Regions from separate parts of the Homo sapiens genome. Here regions 2 and 3 are each linked to region 1. The links come from fine-mapping of genetic effects on gene expression. A gene starts in region 1. Each other region holds a variant in brackets. All regions are shown on one strand. Distances are from middle to middle. Region 1 holds the start of ARHGAP32 (Rho GTPase activating protein 32). Region 2 overlaps LOC124902791 (a long non-coding RNA gene). Region 3 overlaps ARHGAP32 (Rho GTPase activating protein 32).

What was found.
Region 2: its variant is fine-mapped to the expression of ARHGAP32 in whole blood (TOPMed, PIP above 0.99).
Region 3: its variant is fine-mapped to the expression of ARHGAP32 in tibial nerve (GTEx, PIP 0.95).

What each region holds. Positions count from the first base shown.
Region 1 is chr11:129,187,826-129,195,248 of GRCh38, forward strand. It overlaps ARHGAP32 (Rho GTPase activating protein 32), which reads right to left and starts at 4,500. Exons shown (of 23, transcript NM_001378024.1): 1 at 4,258-4,500. The coding sequence starts at 4,373.
Region 2 is chr11:129,282,240-129,289,662 of GRCh38, forward strand. LOC124902791 (a long non-coding RNA gene) reads right to left here. Exons shown (of 2, transcript XR_007062950.1): 2 at 2,721-4,565. It overlaps LOC399975 (a long non-coding RNA gene), which reads right to left and starts at 925. Exons shown (of 2, transcript NR_145484.1): 1 at 787-925. RefSeq lists an enhancer at 792-1,293. The variant A/C (reference allele first, on the strand shown) is at 4,248.
Region 3 is chr11:129,139,555-129,146,977 of GRCh38, forward strand. All of the region lies in intron 2 of ARHGAP32 (Rho GTPase activating protein 32), which reads right to left. Among named protein-coding and RNA genes, the nearest start is that of ARHGAP32, 49 kb to the right of the region's middle. RefSeq lists an enhancer at 3,188-4,387. The variant G/A (reference allele first, on the strand shown) is at 3,940.

The DNA.
Region 1 (7,423 bases):
GTTATTAAAGATGTGGTGCCTTTGAAAAGCCACACAGTATAAAATGGGCCTGGGTGTGATATGGTATTTATGGACATACAGTTAATTGGGTTTTTTTGTTTTGGTTTTTTTGTGTGGTTTTTTTGTTTGTTGAGGTTTGTTTGTTTTTGAGATGGAGTCTCATTTTGTCACCCAGGCTGGAATGCAGTGCCGTAATCTCAGCTCACTGCAATCTCTACCTCCCAGGTTCAAGCAATTCTCCTGCCTCAGCCTCCCAAATAGCTGGGATTACAGGAACCCGCCACCACACCCAGCTAATTTTTGTATTTTTAGTAGAGACAGGGTTTCACCATGTTGGCCAGGCTGATCTCAAACTCCTGACCTCAGGTGATCTGCCTGCCTCAGCCTCCCAAAGTGCTGGGATTACAGGTGTGAGCCACCATGCCCAGCCTCAGTTAATTGTTAATACTACCTCTCTGTACTTCCAGGATCATTAAAACTGGCTGGGAAGCCTGAAATCAAGAATTTCTGCAGAAGATAAAAGAACAGGCAGAGTAATAAAAACAGAAAATCTTGAAATTGTTTTATGGGCTTCCAGGGGAAATGAGCCATTAAAAGAAATCATCTAGATCTGATCTGATCGCCTGGGCCTGGGAGTTCAAAGCTGTTTTGAGCCTAGAAGATGTACAATACCACAGTCAAGACCCTTACTACCTACTTAGACTGCCACAATAGCTTCTAACTTGTGGCATCCTTCCAAATAAGATAACTGGTCCACGGTCCAGGGGTTGGGAACCCCTGAGGTAGAGGATGAATAATGCAACCAACCAACGAGTCAAGTGCATGAAGTATCATTAGTTCTATAATGCTATAAATCAATAAAGGCATTGTCCCCCCCAATTAAAATATGTTCACCAAATCATCCAGTTTAACTAAAGTCAGAACTTTCTCGTCACTTAAAATGAATTGCCTTAATAATGGAGATATACGTGAAGATCAGCGATCTGGGCATCTACAGATCGTGATCAAAAATATGGTTCAATTAAGCACTATATCATCTCTGTAGCTGCTTCAAATTATATGTCATATTTGCCAGGCTGTCTATCAGCCCATAACGTGGTATTAGGGAAGTCTAAACAAAATCATATGATAAACATTTCTACCTTCAAATGCCAAAGAACTAGAACCTTTCATGATTCCTAGGTGTCCTAGAGGTCACATTTTTTAAAAGTCACATTATTGTGTTCATTACTTCATTTTTATGATGGTCACATAATCTATATGTCATTGATGCTCATAACCTCCTCAAAAAAAAGGAATTTCAAAACTTGAGATATCAGCTGTAGCCTCTTATAAGTTATCACTTAGCAGAAAATAGCATTTAGCAGAAGATAGCCCCAAAAATCTTTCATTAAAGTCTTCACTTTCAAAGTCAGTTACATCTGGGTTCAAATTTTTGTGCTACCACTTGCAAAATTTTGCTCCACCATGACAAATGTGGGCTGTGTGACTCTCTGAGCCATAAATTCCTCACCGAGGAAATAGGAAAAATGATACCTGCTTTATAGGAGTGATAAGCAGTTAACTGATACACTGTATAAAGCATATATATGGCCTAGTACATTACATATAACAATTTCTAAGTAAAGTTTTTCTTTCTTGATAGAATTAAAACATTTATGTTTTTCCTTTTCTGCCTTATATTCCTCCTTCTTATCCAGGGATGGATTTTTCTAATCATCTCTAGGAACTATTTTATTCTAAGGACTAAATATTCTAGTCTAATAACTATTTTACCACAGTGACAAGGTAGGTAATAATACCGACTACAAATAAGAAATCAGAAAATGAAAGATCTGTGAGTCAATGGCAGACAAATTTAAACTACCACCATGAAGGAGACCGGCAACTTCCCATAGTGAAAGAGTGTTAATAAAAAGGATCCTTTCCTCCAACTGAGTCCAAAAATAAATGCTATTTCAAAAGCTACTGGACAAACATTAACTTGTCTCTGAGACTACTTCCTCCTAAAGCAGATGGCACCTGGAAGCACCAGAAGCCTACATTCTAGGTGTGGTATGACTTTACTCTCTTAGCCATGGTGCCTTAAGTTACACAAGAGCAGGCTTTTAAGAGTGCATTTAAAATGTAGTTTACAAGCTATTCAGGGAAAAAGAAAAGTGCACAATCTTTTGCCCTCATCTCAGCTATGTGTGTGTATGTGAATGGAAATGTAACCAATACGACAGCTTGATGTCACATGTATTTGCAGAGATTTTTATAAAAACACAGTAAGACATTTTTAAAATTATTACATTGATTTTACAAAAACAACTGTCATACCACACTGAGTCTACTATTTGGTCCTCCCAAGGTTACAGCTGCAACTCCTATCCGACCCTTCCCCTTCCACACCCATGCCTCCATTTTCCTGTAGGGCATCTCGGCAGGAACACCACCACGAGGTTGTGAAACCACTCTGCTGCCACATTTCCTCATGCCTCACTGCTGAATGCGTGAGAGACACTACATGAAATTGGGCCTTGCCCAGACCTCTTTGTTACATTTGTAAATAAAATCAGATCAAATCACAAAGATATAATTGATTTAGGAGAGCCATGGTGCTATTCAGATAGGAAATATAAACAGAAGAGAAATGCCCTATGGTATCATAGTTTCCTTAAACAACACATCACTAGCTCAGTTTCTCAGAGTGAAAATGCTGTCACATACTCCCAAGGAAAAGAAGAGCTCATCCTTACACAAATTTGCTTTTAACTGTCAAAAGAAAATCCCAGAGAGACGCCCACTGCCTTACAAGTAAATCTAGGATTACAGTACCAAATCTGTTATAAAAACAACAATGAAATAAGTTCCAAGTTGTTTCTTCCTTTGACAAATACCCAAATAACTTCCATAATTTGAATACCAGGTCAAAAAGTTTTATTACAAGCAAAACAAATACTTCAGTCCTACTCATTGTTAGCAAGACACAAACCATATTAAAAAGCAGAACATGTGACTAACAATTAGCATACCTTGGAAGGGAAGGGACTTACTCAAATTTGAAAGGCTAGATAAAATTATGGGAAAATGAGACAAAAGTTCAGACAAAAAATAATCATATGCTAATAATTCATTTTTATACTCTGAAAATTATTCTTTTAAAATTTTAAATATACTTCTCATTTATTTGAACCCCAGAGTAAAAAATTTAGTGAGGGTTATCAAGAGTTCCCAATATTCAATCCCTTCCATCATTTAACCTAGACTTTAAAAAATAAAATTTGTGGATAAAGAAATCCTTTGACTCGAGAAAAGGAGAAACTCTTTTTCAGCATTAAACACAAAGACAGTATCTGATGAAAACAGTATATTCACCTATCCAAGTTCTCATAGGTAAACTTATAAAAGATGTTTAATTGCACATGTGAGTGGCAGTGATAATATGCAGCAACAAACTTCAAACTTCATCAAGAGATTTTTGTGATACTCAAAGGTATTACATCGCTAACTCTGAAAGAAAAAGAAAAGCCAGAATAAAGCCCCCTAAAATTTGCAACAGTACAACAGAATGAATGAAACATTGGTTCTGTTTTCACAAACTGGTTAAGACATCTTTCTTCACCACAGACACTAAACTGAGAGCTGCTTCATCAGGAGGCATCCTCTAAAAACTTCAATTATGAAGTTACTAATACTACCAGAGATTCAAAAACCAAGAGAGATTTGGGGGAAAGGGGGCATGAGATACAAGATCAGAGACAAGGGTAAAGATCAAAGCCACAAAATAACCAATCTGTACTTAATCGGAATTTTTCATACCCATGCATAAGGCAAACAAAGCAGGCAGGCAGGCAGGCACGCACACACACACACACACACACACACACACCACATTCCAAGAAAAAGAGGAAGAAAAATCTATTAGATACAAATTCAGATCAAATCTATTTGATACAAATCAGATACAGGAAGGGGTAGTAGTTCATTATGAGTGTCTACTTGAAATTCCTGAAAGGCTACTACAAAACCTGTCTAACACCTTCTCCTCCTGGCGTTCTAACAAGTCCTTTAAAATGCATTTTACAAGTTCAGGGCAAGTTGTGGAATGAGGAGTGCTATATACAACTCAAAACCTGCTCCCTTGAGCTCCAAACCTTCCCCCAGAAAACAGAAAGTCTTATTGGAAAAAAGACCGAAATGCAGAGAAGAAAAAGGGGTGCGGGTGGGGGTAGGGAGTGGACAGGACAAAGGAACTGTGAATTCCATAATCACCTGAACTTCTCTTCCCTTTCTTCCTCTTCACAGTCAGTCACCTGGATTATAACTTCAGACTCCAACCAGAAGACACTGTCATCCCCTAAAGTGCTACTCTCACTTTCAGTCTCCATCTTGTACTTAAAAAACAAAAAAAACTAAACCTCCAGGCATGGAATAAAAAGCACCAACATTCAGGTTGTTCAGCTCTACTCATGTATACTCAGATGTGTGTCTGGTGCCCTAGTGACAGGTACTGGTGCTGGTTTAATTACAGTCAGGGTACAGACAGGAAATCACAGGCAGCACAGTCACTGCGTCTGACTGCCATACTGGTGACACCTAGACCCTCCCACTGCCTTAGGCTGCGTGACCTACATAACCAAAAGCAGAATCTAAATGAAGGTGATTTTTTACTAATTATTCTGTAATAATGACTCTTCTCAAAGTTTCCACTTAATAAGTTAAAAATAGGTATTTTCAAAATGCAGGCTTTATTTGTATCCTTTTTTGATCTCGGACTCCAGAAAGGTAAATAGAAAACTAGAAAGAATAACACCATCCACTGGCCAAGCACATGAGAAGCACAGTTATAGATCTCACAGTTAAGGAGGCTCACAATAAGTAGAGAAGATAAGTATGCTCTAGGGACCTGCCTAGGTTCATGCCTTCCAATATTACACCCATCTTTCCTTCCTCTCAGTAAGGACTGCCATATGCATCTCTGCTCAAGTATCCAGAGTGAGACATAAAAGCTGGGCTTGTCCACAGTCCTTGAAAGAAAAAAGTTTAAGTGTCCCAAGTTCAAAGATGCTGACAATCACATCAAATAAAAGCATGCAAAGTTTTACACATTTAAACTGCAAACAGTCATGGTGGCAATAAAATGACTTGCTGGGAAATGAGTGAAAGGTATAGCATCTATGACTGTCAACAACACAACTGTTACTTAGAAAAGAGCCATGTTGACAGAAACTACTGACCTGCTGGATATTCATGGCTATTTGTCTTTTACCAAGCAGCAACAAACTGCAAAGCCCTGACTTTCCACTGTATCTGATTTAATCAAAAATTAAGAAGACATCTACTGAAGTCTTCTTGAATTTTCATATTTGAAAAATAAAGAGCCAAGCACAGTGGCTCACGCCTGTAATCCCAACACTTTGAGAGGCTGAGGTGGATGCATCACTTGAGCTCAAGAGTTCAAGACCAACCTGGGCAACTTAGCGAGACCTCATCTTTATGGGGGGGGGGGGGGGGGGGCGGGAAACAGCCAAGTGTGGTGGTGCACCCTGTAGTCCCAGCTACTCAACAGGCTGAGGTGGGAGGATCGCCTGAGCCTGGGAGTTCAAGGCTGTTGTGAGCCATAATCACGCCACTGCACTCCAGCCTGGGCAACACAGCAAGACCCTGTCTCAAAAAAAAAAAAAAAAAAATATATATATATGCAGGTCCCTAGAGCATATAATATATATATTATATATAATATATATATATTATATATAATATATATATATTATATAATATATGTTATATATAATATATAATATATGTTATATAATATATATAATATATGTTATATAATACATATACAATATATATTATATATAATATATAATATATATTATATAATATATAATATATATTATATATTATATATTATATATAATATATATTATATAATACATATAATACATATATAAATTTTAAAAACTTTTCAAAAAAAATTTTTTAAACCAAAAACAACAGAACAACATTATAAGCAAAGTCAAAATGCAAACAAGTTGAGAAAAAAATATTTGAAACATATCACAAAGGGTTAATTTATTTAATATATAAAAAGTTCTTAAAAACTTCTAAGACCCAAGAGCTCAAAAGATAAATAGGCAAAGAGCAAAAATATAATACTCAGAGATAAACATAAAAGAAACTTAAAAGATGTTAAAAGTAACTTCACTGATAACAGAAATGTAAAACAATACATAATAAGATGACTTTTAAAAAATCTATCACATAGGCAAAGCTTTTAAAAGGTTTTAACAAACTGAAAGAGGACATGGGAAAAGAAACATGCCTGTCAGTGGGAGTTTAAACTGGTACAACCTGTGTTCAGGGCAATTTAGCAAAATCTACCAAAATTCAAAATGCACATCTTTTTGGCCCAGCAATTTCTCTTTTAGGAAATTATCTCACTTTCACAAGTAGAAGTAAGAGGCAAACAGGAACATTCATTCTGGTAGACATTATAGTAGCAAAATAGGATAGCAAAAACAACCTAACTTCCTGAGGAATAGAAAACTAGGCAAATTACAGAATACCCATAGAATGGAATGCTACACAGTGAGTATATGAGAAAACAAGGCAGCCCTACAGGTCACAATACGGAACAAAGCCTAAGGAATACTGTTAAGGCAAAGAAGAAAGGGGTAAAAGTATAGGGCAGTATGTGCAGTATGCTATGCTGCCATCTGTGTTTTCAATGAGGAGTTAGGAGAAACAAATGCAGACTATCTATGGAAGAAGAGGATCAGTACTAGTACCAGTAGTTGTCTCCACGGAGGAAAACAGACAGCTGGAGAAGAGGAATAAAAGAAAGACACGCTTGAACCCGGGAGGTGGAGATTGTTGCAGTGAGCCGAGATCACGCCATTGCACTCCAGCCTGGGCAACAAGAGTGAAACTCCGTCTCAAAAAAAAAAGAAGAAAGAAAGATAGTTTTTCACTATGTCATGCACATATAATCCTTACCAAAATATTAACTAATTTTAAATAGAATCTTTCATGACCTTCAGTAAAGAATTGGATTTTTAAATATTATTTCATTAAGAATCTAGTTCTTTTTTTTCTAAACAACTCTAACTCCTTCAAAGTGTTGTTTTTTTGTGGGGGGGGGGGTTGTTTTGTTTTGTTTTGTTTGTTTGTTGAAACAGGGTCTTGTTCTGTCACCTAGGCTGGAGTGCAGTGGCACGATCTCGACTCACTGCAACCTCCACCTCCCAGTTCAGGCAATCCTCCTGCCTCAGCCTCCCAAGCAGCTGGGATTATAAGTGTGTGCCACGACACCTGCTAATTTTTGTTGTTGTTGTTGTATTTTTAGTAGAGATGGGGTTTCACCATGTTGGCCAGGCTGGTCTCGAACTCCTGATCTCAAGTGATCTGCCTGCCTCTGCCTCCCAAAGTGCTG
Region 2 (7,423 bases), 94 kb after region 1:
TTCATAGAGAATTTTAACACAGAATTTTCCCAAAGCGACAATTGACATTGTCTTGCTTATTTATTCTTTCCTGGCCAAAGCGCCAGCTGCATATTGTGTCCCTATTAAAAAGAGATGTCAAAAAAAGATGTGTTGTCTGTCTGTAGCATACTCCTTGCTAATATTGACGCTCGTGAAACAGCCCCTGTAAACATGGAATCCATGCCCACTACCATGGGCAACATTTTAAGGAACACCAGTACTGCTGTTCACTGAGATGTTATTAATCCCTGATGCATTCATTGAAATGATAAACTTTCCATCTTCTCTCCTTTCCCTATCACATTTTCATCATGAACCTCTATCATAGTAATTCAGAACTTTGTGTTATTCTCCTATGAAATTTTTTTTTTCAGTCTTTAAACCTTAACACCAACTCCACCTATTGACATGTCCACTTTTGAATGGGGTCCTTGGCCTCCTCTGTGATTCTATCTGCTGCCTGCCCCAGGGCTCTGACCGTGGGCCCCTCCTGTTCTCTTTCTACACTGCCACCCTAGGCAGCATCCTCCAGCAAGGCTTTAAGTAGCCTCTACTTTTAACCCTGGCCCCTCCCCAGCACTCCACCCTCTTATATCCTGCTGCCTCCAGGCATCTCCATTTGAATATCTCCCACTTAATGTGTCTCAAACAGAACTTTTGATTTCCATATTGTAAACAAAACCCAAAACTGATTCCTCCAAGTCTGCCTCATCACAGGACAAAAAATATCTCTTCCTTTCAATCACCACGTTCATTTTAGCCTACCTTCAAATGGTACGGAAGCCAATCGCATCCTTCTCTCTTAACCACGAACACCCATGTCTGCCCTCCCCGTGATCTTTCTCCTGGGTGACTGGGACAGACGAACCATCACCCTGCTTCCACTTTTTCCCCTCCACGGTCTAGCCTCTACACAGCCACCAGAGAATTTATTGTAAAGCATTGGTAAGATAATGTCCTTGTTCTTGCCCAAAACACTCCAGGGCCCTGTGCTTCTAATCACACTGCAATAAAATCCAAAGTCCTTTCCCAGCCTTTCAAGTCCTTTCAGCCCTGACTCACCAGTTCAGTTTTTTACCTTTTGCCATTCACTCTGCCTCAGCCACACCCACCTCCCTCCTGAGGTTTCTCAGACCTGCCAGGAAGACTCCACCTTCCTGGCTTTTAAATTAACCTTCCTACTACTATATAAAATAGTTCTGCCTTCTCTGTCCCCTTACTCTGCTTCTTTTTTTTCTCATAGCACTTATCACTACATGATTATGTTGTGTAATCAATATTTATTATTGGACTCTGTTCCTAAAATGTAAGCACCATGAGGGCCTGGACTTTGTTTATTCACAAATGGGTATGTTTATGCCAAATGAATACATAAATGGTACTATCAGGGTGCAAAGTCTTTATACACACTTCTTACCTGCTGTTGTGTATTGCCATGGATCTATCTTTATACTTAGTACAAGTGGAAACAATTGCAAAGTGTAACATTATGTAATTTAAATTTCCTGTACTTTCAGCTCTGACCTCTCCCCAGCCCTCCAGCCTCATATATTCCACAATAAAATTATATCATTTGCAGTGCACTGCAAGTCAAATCAAGACAAACTATACTGAAAATCTAAGAAAATATCAAGATTCAGCAGAGAAAGGTACATATTACATGAGGAATTTAGTGCCCGTAGGACAAAATCACAGTCTAACCTTGCAATTAGGTTTTAATATGTAGAAATTAAAGGCACAGAAAAAGCCAAATTATATGAATTGGCTTCTCAATCCAAACTGAAATAATCACCATGGTGAGAAAGAACATAAATTTTAGGAGGACAAGTTTCCCTTTCATTTTTTATCTTATCTCACTATGTAGTCTTGGACAAGGCAATTAACATCTGTTTTCCCATCTGTAAAATGGGCTTGCCCGCTGTCCTCTTTAGTTGGGTATCATAAAGATAGAATGACTTAATTATTATAAAAATGTTTTAGAAGAAAGGAATTTTGCAAGTGAACAGTGATTATTATTACTTTCCAAACTTCTTTGTGTAATATTTTGAAAATGAGGAAGAAATAATATATTTTTTCAATGTGTCTAAAGACTGAAGTGAATCAGCATTTCTAAATCATGCAGCACTTCCAAAATTATCAGAAAAAACTTTTGGAAGTCGCGAAGCAACCTGTAGAGTCACCCAAGTATATCACCTACCATGGGAGGCTCTATATACTGAAGCATTAGGAGGAACAACACGTAATCCATTTTATAGTCAGAGTGCACTATGATCAGGAAGTGAAAGGAATAGCACGGAAATGCAAGCATTTGTGTAAAGTATTAATTCCACTTCTTATCAAACAATATAATGTGGAGATCCTTGAAAGAATGAATGAACAAAGAGGCAACTATAACATTTCTATATATGACATGCTTCAGGGCAGCAAAATGTTTGGAAGGAGAAAGAGATCTAGGGGACTTTTTGAAGCTCTGTCTCCAGCAAGCATGCTGCTTTATTTAGAGCGTATGTTTAATTGAGGTGACTTGGAGGAAGCTAAATCTCCCATTGGTGGCTGTGACAGTGGTGAGAAGTTGCTATTACTCATAAGCGCGCACACACACACACACACACACACACACACACACACTTTACTGTAAACACATTGAATGCTCCACTCCTCCCTCCAAGCTTGGCCTGAATCAGCACTCTACTCAGTGATGCTCCCAACCCCAAAGGCTTTTATTAGATCTAAAGAACTGAAACCAGTGTTGAGGAAATGCATGGGAAAGTGACTTGGGAAAGCTAGAGATCAAAGAGAGGTCACTCAACTCCAGGGTGGCTGCTTTCCCAGGGTGCTCCCAGCAATTCCCCTCCCACGATTTTGTCTTTTATGGCTTCCAGTTTCCAGAACTTAATGCATCTCAGAAGGTCTAAAACATCTGTGTTTTTCTGCTATATTCAAAATACTTGTTGGCGGAGGATTTACCGATGTCTCTGACACTGCATGCAGTGATGTGATGTTTCCTGGGCAACTTAAGAACTGTAGTAGGTAATCCTATAAGGCATTTTATTATTTTTTAAAATCACTTGTACTTGGCTTGGGAAGTTATCTTGTATTTAACTTTAAGCATAGATGATCCCTGGATATACTGAGGGCTAGGGGACATAATGTGTCAGACAAAATAATAAAACTACCCTATCCAAATATTATTCTCCTGTTCCCTACTTAATTTTTTCTCTTATGTATTTCATGCTGAAAACAAACAGCATTACTCCTCAGAGTGATATAAAAGGCCAGTCTCAGGCAGAGCTGATAACAGACTCAAACTGACTCGTTGACTCCTGCTTTCCCCAGTCATGGTCTGATTTTAAAAGTACTTATCTGTAGTTCTTGATTGATTTAAAAAAAAAAAAAAGCAGCAACTCCCTTACTCATGGTAACAGAATGCTCTGTTAAAGAATACTACAACAGTGATAGGTTGGGTCAAATAGTTGAGAAAATTATAATTTAGGCAATGCAGAGTTTTCTGTGCACCTTTCAAAAGAAAACTTAGTGCTTTATCAAATATGAGGCACTATTAATTTTGAGAGAAATTCAGGCACAGAGAGATTCAAAACCTATCTAAAATTCAGTCTATGCTTTATGATAATAAAAGAGAGATATCTCTTTTTTGTAAATATGTGTTGATGGCCAGGTCACACAAAACAAGACGATACTTTTTTAGAGATGGGGGTCTCACTGTGTTGCCCAGTCTCATCTCAAATGCCTGGGTTCAAGCGATCATAGCTTGGATTACAGGTAGGTACCACGGAAGCCAAGGCAAGAGGATCACTTGAGGTCAGGAGTTTGAGACCAGCCTGGGCAACATAGCAAGACCCCATCTCTAAAATATATAAATAAATACAATTTAAAATATTTTTAACGTTATCCGTGCATTTCTGTGCATCACAGGAGAAAGTCCACCAGAAGAGTGCAATCCTTCTCCACTCTCTTTCGTCCCCTTTACTACTGGAGGGGAGAAGACAAAGGGTCCTTACATTTACATTTCCACCACCGCCTCTAGTTACCATACCTGGGGCAGTTGGCTGTAACTCTTTCCATGCCCACAAGAACACAGCATTAAAAACAAAACCACATTCAAGTACAGTGACTCCAGCTAAGCTGTGGCGTGTTGATTAGCCAAACCATTGGCATTTCACATGCCCAGTCCTTGCTGTTCTTTGATGGGCAAGTAACCCCGAAGA[A/C]GAGAGCAATTTTTCCATCGTCACCCATTTTATAATTACTAGCCCTGCTTCTGGGCTGGCTGTCACATCCTACACCTCCCCAAATCCTCTGGTGCAACTTTTTGGGAGAGTTAAAACCTCCTCGATGTCACCTTGGTACTATAATGATGTCCTTTGACAGAAGAAACAAAGTCAACCACCATGTTCTCCCTGAGAAGTTCAGGAAAGTTTGATTCTTCCTTTTCCAAAGGAGAAAAGTATCTTCAAGGAGATGACTAAATCTTACTCAGAAGCATCCTTCTTCATTAAGTTCTCATCTGTATGGTACCATGCTGGAGGCTGGGCAAAGAAAAGCAAATAATGAGACCCTTCCATTTCTCTATGCTTTGGGTTTAAGATCGACAAAACCCACAAAAGCTAATCTCCGAGTATACAGACATCAAACAGCTGTGCAAACATTGGACAGATGCATAAATTAAATACAAAAGTAAATAAAGTATTTACATTATGTACAAGTCATGCAGCTGCTGTTACTACACTCCACGAAGGCTCCAGAGGGAAGGAGGGACATTAAGCTGAGCAGATTGTCTTTTTCGGTCGGGGATGGTGTCAGCAGGAAGGAGCAGAAAGGTCACACATGGCTCGAGGAACAAAGACAAACTGTTACATAAACTCTTGTCTGCTGGTGCACAACCTCTAAACGTAGTCTTCAGAATGAAGCAACTTTGTTTCTCAGAAATAACTTTTATATCTCAGACTATGCTTTTAGGAATCTGTGTCAGTAACTAATTTTAAAGTGTCAGGGATGGCCCCATGGCCAGCAACAGCAGGAACCCAATGAGATGACCTAAGAGATCACAAGAACTGTCCTACCTCAAAGACTACCTTGATATTCTACATGTGTCCAGGGTGGGAGAAATAAAATGAATGGCAGTAGCCCACTGCCATTGGAAACTCTGCCTGGTATCCTGCTGCTGTGGAAATTTCCTCAGTCTTCTCTATGGAGGAACACAGGATGCAGCGCAGCTTTGTTTAGCCTAGATTCCCATACTCTACACCTGGAACATAGGACACATGAATGATTGATGAACTACTAAGCAGCTCATGAATCTCTCCTTACTTTAGGAGATAAAAGGGAGGATAGCCTTTTGTGTTTATGTTAAATTAAAATACCATTTTTATTCAGAGTAGCCTGTATAGTGTTCTATATTTGAGGAAAACAAAAAGATTTAAAAAGAGAGAAAACAACACAAGCCCCTGGTTTAAAAAAATTAGAAATGGCAGTAAAATGGAAAAATTCATAACTACAATTCAGAGGTAATCATTATTAATATTTTGGTACATATCTTCTACATGTCTTCATGTACATGGATATATATAAAAAATTTTAACAGAAACAAGATCATACTGAAAATAATGCATGCAATCTGCTTTTTTCCCCTTAATGCTTTTTAAACTTTTCTTGCCAATAAATATTTCTACATTATTTGTATATAATCATATGTCTATGCCATATTTTTTTAGTCCCCTGTTGTTGGACATTTCTAGTGTCATGATTTTTTTTTTTTTTTCTCTAACTTGTAATGGCTGGTGGAGCAATCTTATCACTAAAGGTGTGTGCACAACACAGACTTCTGAGAGTCAGAATTCTTCCCACACCCACCGGCTGATACTTAGAATTCCATGCCTAGTGCCTCAGTCCTTTGCCTTAAGGATTTTGTTTAGTTAAAAAGTGAGTCCCAGGAGAGCTGTTTCTTAAAACACTATCTGACACTGATTTCCCATTTTTCCTTGGGAAGTCCCGAGGAGAGTCGCAAAGACTGGTTTTATGCTGAGGTCTTGGCCCTGGGCCTTGGCTGATGAAACCAGAAAAGTCCCCAAGTTCACGCATGTTCTGGTAGAACCGTTACAATTTTATAATTGACTAAACTCCTTGAGCAGTTGGGAACACAATTAATGCTGGCTGGTACTAATTATTGCCTAAATTCAGTTTATTATAGGAAATAGGTTCAGTTCTTAGCATATTCCCTCAGGACCTGGTCCACATATTCATTAATTTTTACTCCCAAATACTTTATATTTGTATGGTTTTCTGTAAATATAAATCTATTTACCTTGTAGCCTATCTTTATTACTGCATGTTCATTGAATTAAACTTATTCAGACCTCAATTTTTCATTTCACTTCTAAGCAATATAACTGTGATCAGTCATATCCCAGAATTCAGGACTGGTACTGTAATCCCCACAGAGATGGTATAGTTCTTTTTATCTACAAATCCAGGATTTTCTTTAACCCAACACACATGTCTGTGAGGTGTGTTATCACAGTATAACATACCTGGTTACCCTGTGAAAAGCAGAGCCCAGGAAGAGTGAAGGTTCCTGTTTCTATGCAACCATAGGTATGTACGTGTGTGTGTGTGTGTGTGTGTGTGTGTGTGTGTGACAAAGAGAAGAAGAGAGAGACAGCGAGAGAGAGACACACACACACAGAGAGAGAGAGGGACAGAGAGAGAGAGAGAGAGTATTTATCTGGAGAATAGCTGTACATCTCCAGGGACCCAGGATCAGCAGTGTCAAGGTCTACCAGGTGCTTATGAAGTGCTAATTGCGCTGTTACTGAAGTTCAGTTTCCACCAGAGACTCACAGAGCGACCTTGGGGAAATGATTGAATGCTTCCATTCCTCCAATCTCACACCTGAATACCGGGGATGATAATATTGCCCAACTCCTTCCCTTACAATGGCATAAGAATGAAGTAGCTTACAGTTGGTGTTTTGAGAGTCTGTGGGAGCATTATTACTTCATGCTACCTTTTTTATATGTAACTTTTGTGCACTCAACCATTAAGGAGGGACAACTGTGCCACGGATGTTTCTTTTCTACGCTGCTCTCTTGGGGAGAGTGTCCAACTGCTGAAACTTACGTATGAAAAACGAGAGCAAGAGAGAGACAGAGAATGAGAAATCATAACCTCCCACTCACATATATTTGGCATTTCAAGCTTTGAGCAATTAATAACCAACTCCTTGACTTGGAAGCTGTCATGCTCACAATGCTGTTTGAACTGTTCCCACACAACCCACTGAACACACCTTCCTTCCAGAAAAGGCTGTCGCAGACGCACTTTTCAGCCTTGAAAGACAAAAGAGTAGACTTGAGCAAACACGAAGACTTTCATAAAATGGAGTAAG
Region 3 (7,423 bases), 48 kb before region 1:
GTAATTAATTGAATCATAGGGGGCGGGTCTTTCTTGTGCTGTTCTCGTTATAATGAGTAAGTCTCACGAGATCTGACAGTTTTATAAAGAGTTCTCCCGCACAAGCTCTCTCTCTTTGCCTGCCGCCATCCATGTTAAGACATGACTTGCTCCTCCTTGCCTTCCGCCATGATTGTGAGGCCTCCCCAGCCATGTGGAACTGTAAGTCCATTAAACCTCTTTTTCTTCCCAGTCTCGAATATGTCTTTATCAGCAGCATGAAAACAAACTAATATATCAATGTTATCACGTTAAATATATTATGAAGTATAAATACCAGAGAAAACATGTAAGACTGTGGTAGGCAAAATTCTAAAGAGGGTCTCCCTTGCCCCCCAAGATTCCCACCCCATGGTTGTTCAATCAATCTAGGTACTGCTGAGAATAGAGGGTGCAAATGTAATTAAAATCCCAGGTCAGTCGATCTTAAAATATAAAAATTATCTGGATAGGCCTAATCTAATCACATGAGCACTTCAAAAGTAGAGTTTTCTCCAGCTGGTAGCAGAAGGGAAAGTCAAAGATTTGAAGCACCAAGTACCACCCCTGGCTTTGAAGCCTGAGGGGGTCACATGAGAGGGAATTCATGCAGCCCCTAAAAGTTATGCCACCACACCTCCCACAATGACAGCCAGCAAGGAAACAGGGACCTCAGATCTACAACCATAAGGAACTGGATTCTGCCAACAGAATCTGCAGATGAGAACCCAGCCCAGCCAATACTTTGATTTCCGCTTTAGGAGACCCTGAGCAGAGAACCCAGTTAAGCCTGCCCAGACTTCTAACATGCAGAACTGTGAGATAATAAATGGGTATTCTTTTAAGCCCTTAAGCTTGTGATAATTTCTTATACATATTCAACAAAAAACAAATACTAACAACATCTAAGACCTTAGGAATTTCTGAGTGCTCTCAGATTTTATATGCTCCTTTATCTCTCATGGAAGTAAAACTCTTTCCCAGGACTTGGGATGTAAAGCCTCAGAAGCTTTTGCCTCCCAGCACTCCCAGGACCCCATTGAATGCAATGACTTCAGTACCATCCCAAACCACCTTCTTAAGGCTTCCTCAAAGGAGTAAGCTATGCACTTGAAGGCAAATCCTAGAGGAAGGAGCAAATTCTGCAGGTGAGATAGGTAACTGGAGGGAGGTACACAGATCTGACACAGTTCAATAACCAGCTCTCCTATCTCCCTGGCAATCTTGCATTTTAAGTGTGAAGTCTACAATCTGTTCCACATCCCATTCTGCAGTTCTCAAGACAACACTCTTTCCCCCTAAAGGGAGGAAAATTTAATTCCTTTCCCTTTCCATGGCAACGTTTTTTAATTCCCCCTTCCAAGGTGTCTACCACTGTGTCCACTAGCCAGTCTTTTTCAGAGATATTTTCCTTCCAGTGAAACTGCCAATTCCTTTACCTATGGCAACTCCCATAATATACAATAGGGAATATGAAGTTTCACCTGCACTGCACAGCACCTTAATAATCAGGTAGAATGCTTATGTTTAAATGGAAAAGCAAGGAAATATAAAATTGTATATTGTCCATAATTATTTTAAAAATCATATTCCCAGACATGATGGGAAAGGAGAATATATCCCAAAGCAATATTCTTTGAAACTAACCATTTGAAGACATTTGTATAAGGAAAAATGTGCTTATACGGATGTTCTGTTAAAAAACTCTCAGCATTGCCATAAAAAAGGATGAGTTCATGTCCTTTGTAGCGACATGGATGAAGCTGGAAACCATGATTCTGAGCAAACTATTGCAAGGGACAGAAAACCAAACACTGCATGTTCTCACTTATAGGTGGGAATTGAACAATGAGAACACATAGACACAAGGCAGGGAACATCAGACACCGGGGCCTGTCATGGGGTAGGGGGATGGGGAAGGGACAGCATTAGGAGAAATACCTAATGTAAATGACGAGTTAATGGGTCCAGCAAACCAACACAGCACATGTATACCTATGTAACAAACCTGCACGTTGTGCACATGTACCCTAGAACTTAAAGTATAATTAAAAAAAAAAAAAGAAAGAAAAAATGGTTAAGATGGTAAATACTATGTGTATTTTATTACAATTAAAAATAAAATATATAAAATCAAAAAAAAAAACTCTCTGCATTGTAAAAAGCCTATACCAAAATAATCTCACCACCATGGGAAATAGGATTATGGGAAAGCCTCTTTTTTTTTTCTTTTCACTTTTCTGTATGTTTTATTTTTACAAGGGAAAGGGCAAAAGAGATAAAGGGAAAGAAAAAGGAAAGAGAGAAAGAGAAAGTCACAAGCTAGCTTCTTCCTCCTCTGCGTATTACTTACAGCAACCATTTGCAAATGTAAAACAACCTGTCATAAATCAATGAGATTAGATAATCTATATAACTACAATGTGCAAAGCTAGGCATTCATATTTATGGTCAGGAAAGAACAAGAATAAAAATGCTTCTATGAAGAAATTTGCCCATGTTATAGTAGTAAAAAAGATTTTTTTGTTAATCACTGAACCAAATTATGAGTTATCTGATATAAGCTATCTGAACAGTAGTGGAGACCCCTCTCAAGGCAGAAAAAGAGAGGAAGAAATACCCCGGCTCTTCCCCTCTTTCCGCCCTCCTGTCTTCCACGTGTGCTTCCCATTTGCCAAACCGAGCCAAAAGCCTGCTGGCAAAGGAGCCTGAGAAATGTTATTTGCCAGGATCGGCCTCCTACAGTAGAGAACAGAGCAGACAGAAGGTAGGATGTCCCAACTCCAGATCTATGACATTAATTACTGAACAGTACAGACATAATTACATATACAGTACAGGTTCATTTACATAAAACGCTCTCATACTTTGACAAGGCACCGTAGTCAAATAACATACATATGTATATTTATATACATGAGATCAACTGAATAAACAAGGTTTCAATACTAAATTTGTACTGTCATGAAAGGCAAACTACTAATCAAAATGAGTAGTTAATAATTAAGAACAATAAAACATCTGAAATTGCCATGGAAAATCAGAAATAATATCACCCAATACACATTCATAAAGGACATCAAAATGCAATCAGTGTTAAGTATATGCTGCTATCAAAGTGGACCAGGATTGCTCTTTTTCTTAAAGGAAAAAAAAAAACCACTAAAATATGCATGGGGAAAGTATAATAAGACTTGATCAAAGTGTTCTTTCTGTATAAGGCTAACAAAAAGCATCTGAAAATAATTCTGAGGAAAAAGTGACTTTTTGCCACTTTTCACTTTTTTTAACAGATTCAAATTTTATTTATTGTATTATCTTTATCATTTGTAGTCAGAATTTGACAGAGGTCACAGAAGCTTTAGATTAATGTTATAAATATTTCTTGAAATGGTGACAAAAATATCATTTCTGCTTAAAATATAGTGATGAAGGGGAAAAAAATTTGGCCTCTTAAATAGAAAAAAAAATAGCAGCTGTCTATATGCTGGTAAAACTGCATATATATATATATATAATCAACTGAATAAACGAGATTTTGATACAAAATTTGTGCTGTCAAGAAAGGCAAACAGGACTGCCAGTTTCCTGCAGTTTAACCATAAGAAACACACATAATGAATTTCTGAAATGACATGTTTTAGAAGATTTTACCATTGGTCTAAGTATTGTCCCCTTTCTTAAAAAGAACAGAGACAATGTAGGGGAAATCCAATAAGTAGTCCTCCTTTATCTGTTATTTCACTTTTCACAGTTTCAGTTACCCATGGTCAACCTCGGTCAAAAAATACTAAATGGAAAATTCCTGAAAAAAACAATGTATAAGTTTTAAACTGCATGCAGTTCTGAGTAATGTGATGAAATCTCACACAGTCCCGCACCGCCCCACTCCGTCCCGCCTGGAACATGAATCATTCCTTT[G/A]TCCAGTGCATCTACACTGTGGACTACCCGCCGGTGACTCACTTGGGAGTCATCTCAGTGACCAGACCAACTCTCATGGTATTGCAGTGCTTGTATTCAACTCACGCTTCTTTGACTTAATAATAGCCCCAAAGCACAAGAGGAGTGATGCTGCCAACATGGATATGACAAAGAGGAGCTGGAAAGTGCTTCTGTAAGTGAAAAGGTGAAGTTCTCAACTTAATAAGGAAAGAAAAGAAATCATACACTGAGGCTGCTGAGATCTACAGGAAGAATGAACCTTCTATCCATGAAACTGTGAACAGTATATCATTATAACTGTTCTGTTTTATATTAGTTATTGTAAATCTCTTACTGTGCCTAATTTATAAATTAAAGTTTATCAAGTACATATGTACTAGAAAAACCACAGTATATATAGTGTTCATTACTATCTGCAGTTTCAGGCATCCACTGGGGGTCTTGGAACATATTCCCCTTGGATGGAAGGAAACTATTGTACCATCAGAAAGATAGATTTATTAAAACTGTGTTATATTATTTTGAACAACAATGTTACTAAAGTGATTCTTAAAAAATAAGTATGTCACAAGGAATTCAAATAACTGAGTTACATGTGTGAATATCCGCAAAAGAATTTTGATATAACAAAATAGACTTAATGCTAAAAACAAACTACAATTTTCTTTACTTATTCAAAATTGTTGCAGGTCCTTAGAAAAATCATCACTGTACAGTACTAAGGAAAAAAATAATTAGGCTTTTACATGTTTATATATTGTGAGTTCAGGTATGAGTCTCCACAGAATATGGCAATAATTATTTAAAATACACAGACACTTTCTAAATCGAATCTGTGAATGCTGTTTAGTGGTTTCTCTCAAAATTCTTTTCAGCGTTATGCACCTCCATCAGACTTGATAACAGCCTAGCAATTTTACTAAAAAAACACTTCACATATAAGAAAACTCAAGAGCTCTGAACTAAAAATAGTGCTAAATGGGGAATATTTCCTAATGTCTTAATATCTGGGCACCACAGACCAGGCTCAGGAACACATCCTCCCATGTGTTATCTAGCACCACCAATGTGGAAGTGCCAAAAACCAGAAACAGGAATCAAAGAAGGTGACAGGTAAATTTCAGTAGCTGGTAATTCACAAACACAGAAATAGCCATCAAATAAGCCCCAAGGGTAAATTGTATCACTATTCTTATTCAATTCTCTATTTTGAGTGGGAACAACAGGATGAGAAGACTGAAGGAAAAAACATGATTTCTGAAAGTGATTATAAAACTAGCTCTTCTGCAGCAAGGGTGTTGCCTTAAACTTCACTTCTAGAAAATATCTCCTCAGAGAGCCAATTAACCACAGGGAAAAATTATTCGGAGGCGATATTTAAAATAATTTGGAAAAAACTATTAGAAAGCACCATTAGCATAATAATCACAACTCCTCTGCTAGGCAACAGCTGGTTAATCAACCTAAAATTAACACATTTACATATTAGCAAAGCTTTTAAATGTTATACTTTTCTATAACTGAGATTCATCCTTTCCTTCATCTCAGTCCCTTATCATTAAAGATACTCCTAAATTCAGAAGGCTCGCTAAAAATACAGGGTTCCAACAATGTATATAATTTTACCAGACATTTTATACAAAGGTTCCTATGAAACTCTAAGAACTTTACCTTTACAGGTACTTTATTATGGTAAGTTATTGTCAGTCTTCAGCGCTGCTAGAAAATGATACTGATCTCTTTCTACACTTGAATTCTGTGTACATTAGATTTACTAGTAAAAATGTGCATGCAATATTTAAAGATATATTATAAATATAAATGATATAAATTCTGGGAAAAGAGTATGAATAGAAGAAGGGTAGAAGAAAAGAAAGACCACAAACTAGATGTTTATTTTGAAAAATTTCTAATAAAGGAAGAAATAGCAAGATCCTAGACCACCATGACACTCCAAGTAAGACCTAGAAGAACCATTGTCCCTCCACCTGCATGTTTCATGTAGTTTTTTCCTTGAATATCTTGTAAGTTTTAAAAATTTTTTGAAAGGCTATACAACAAATCATATCAGTAAAAGCAACATCCAGATCACCTAACAACTTAAAGAGCATGCTTGAAATATAGTTTTCAGTTTAATGATTAACAATAGTCACATGCTTAAGCATTGGTTCAACAATTCAAACGGTTATAGGCCTTACGTTATGAAACTGCCAATTGTTAAAATTTTGACCTATAAAATTATCAATTTCATAGACTCCAACTATCAGAGTTCTCAGTAACGTATTAAATAACTTCAATAATTAATACCACTTGATTCATGCCAGAGAAGTCACAGAATCTTTAGCCAGAGAAGTCATAGAATCTTTAGCCAGAGAAGACGTACCACGGGAGAGGATAGGATAGAGACAGACTTAACAGTTGTTTACTGAAGAGCTCCAAACAAACTGGCAAAAATTCAAAACCTGGGCTTTGCATATTAATCAATGGTTACATTTGTGATGGTTCACAAAGCAACATAACATAAAACATTCCGCTTTTAAAGACTGAGATGATAAACATCACTAGGTCCTCTGAATTAAAATTCACTCATAAATCAAAATAAACAGTTAAACATCACACAGGAATAAAAGAGCTAAGGATACTGATTTAAAAAACATTTGCAAATACTTTTTCTTTTATTCAAATTGAAAATGTTTTTACAAGTTGATGGGTTAAAAAGAACCAGTCTAAATTTCACCTTATCTATGATTTCAGTTATCCACAGTCAACTGCAGTCCAAAAATGTAAAATGAAAAATTCCAGAAATAATTCATAAGCTTTAAACTGTGTGCCATTTCGAATAGTGCAATGAAATCTTGCAGTATTATGCTCTGTCTTGGCCAGGACATGAATCATCACCAGCATATCCACATTGTATATGCTACACATACATTAGTATATACAGGGTTCAGTACTCTCCGTGGTTTCTTTCTCTTCATAATTTTAATATCTTATTTTCTGAAAGAGCCTAATATTTAATTGATAAACAATCTCACTGTAAACTGTAAATATTTTACTTTTAGTAATTCAGAAAAACTATAGCATTTTATTAGATTTCTTGAAATACTGAATCTAGTTACAGATTTATGAAGAGTACATAACCATAAATTACAAAAGGATAGAGCCCCATTTTAGGTTTTTACCATTGTTTTGATTTTTAAATGACTATAATAAATATAAAACTCCTTAAATTTTTAAGTTCCAAAATTTCCAGCTCCTTTTTAGATATGTTTATTAAAAAACTAATATTCTGATGTCATAACACAAATCAATAAAAATGTAATACTTAAGCCCTTTTATCTCTGAAGTAATTTAAAAAATTAACCAAATGGAATTGAGTGTAAATACTCCATAAAGGGCTCCCTAAATAAAAAATTTCACTCTCAAAGTTATATTTCACTTAGATTATTATTGAGAAAAAAGG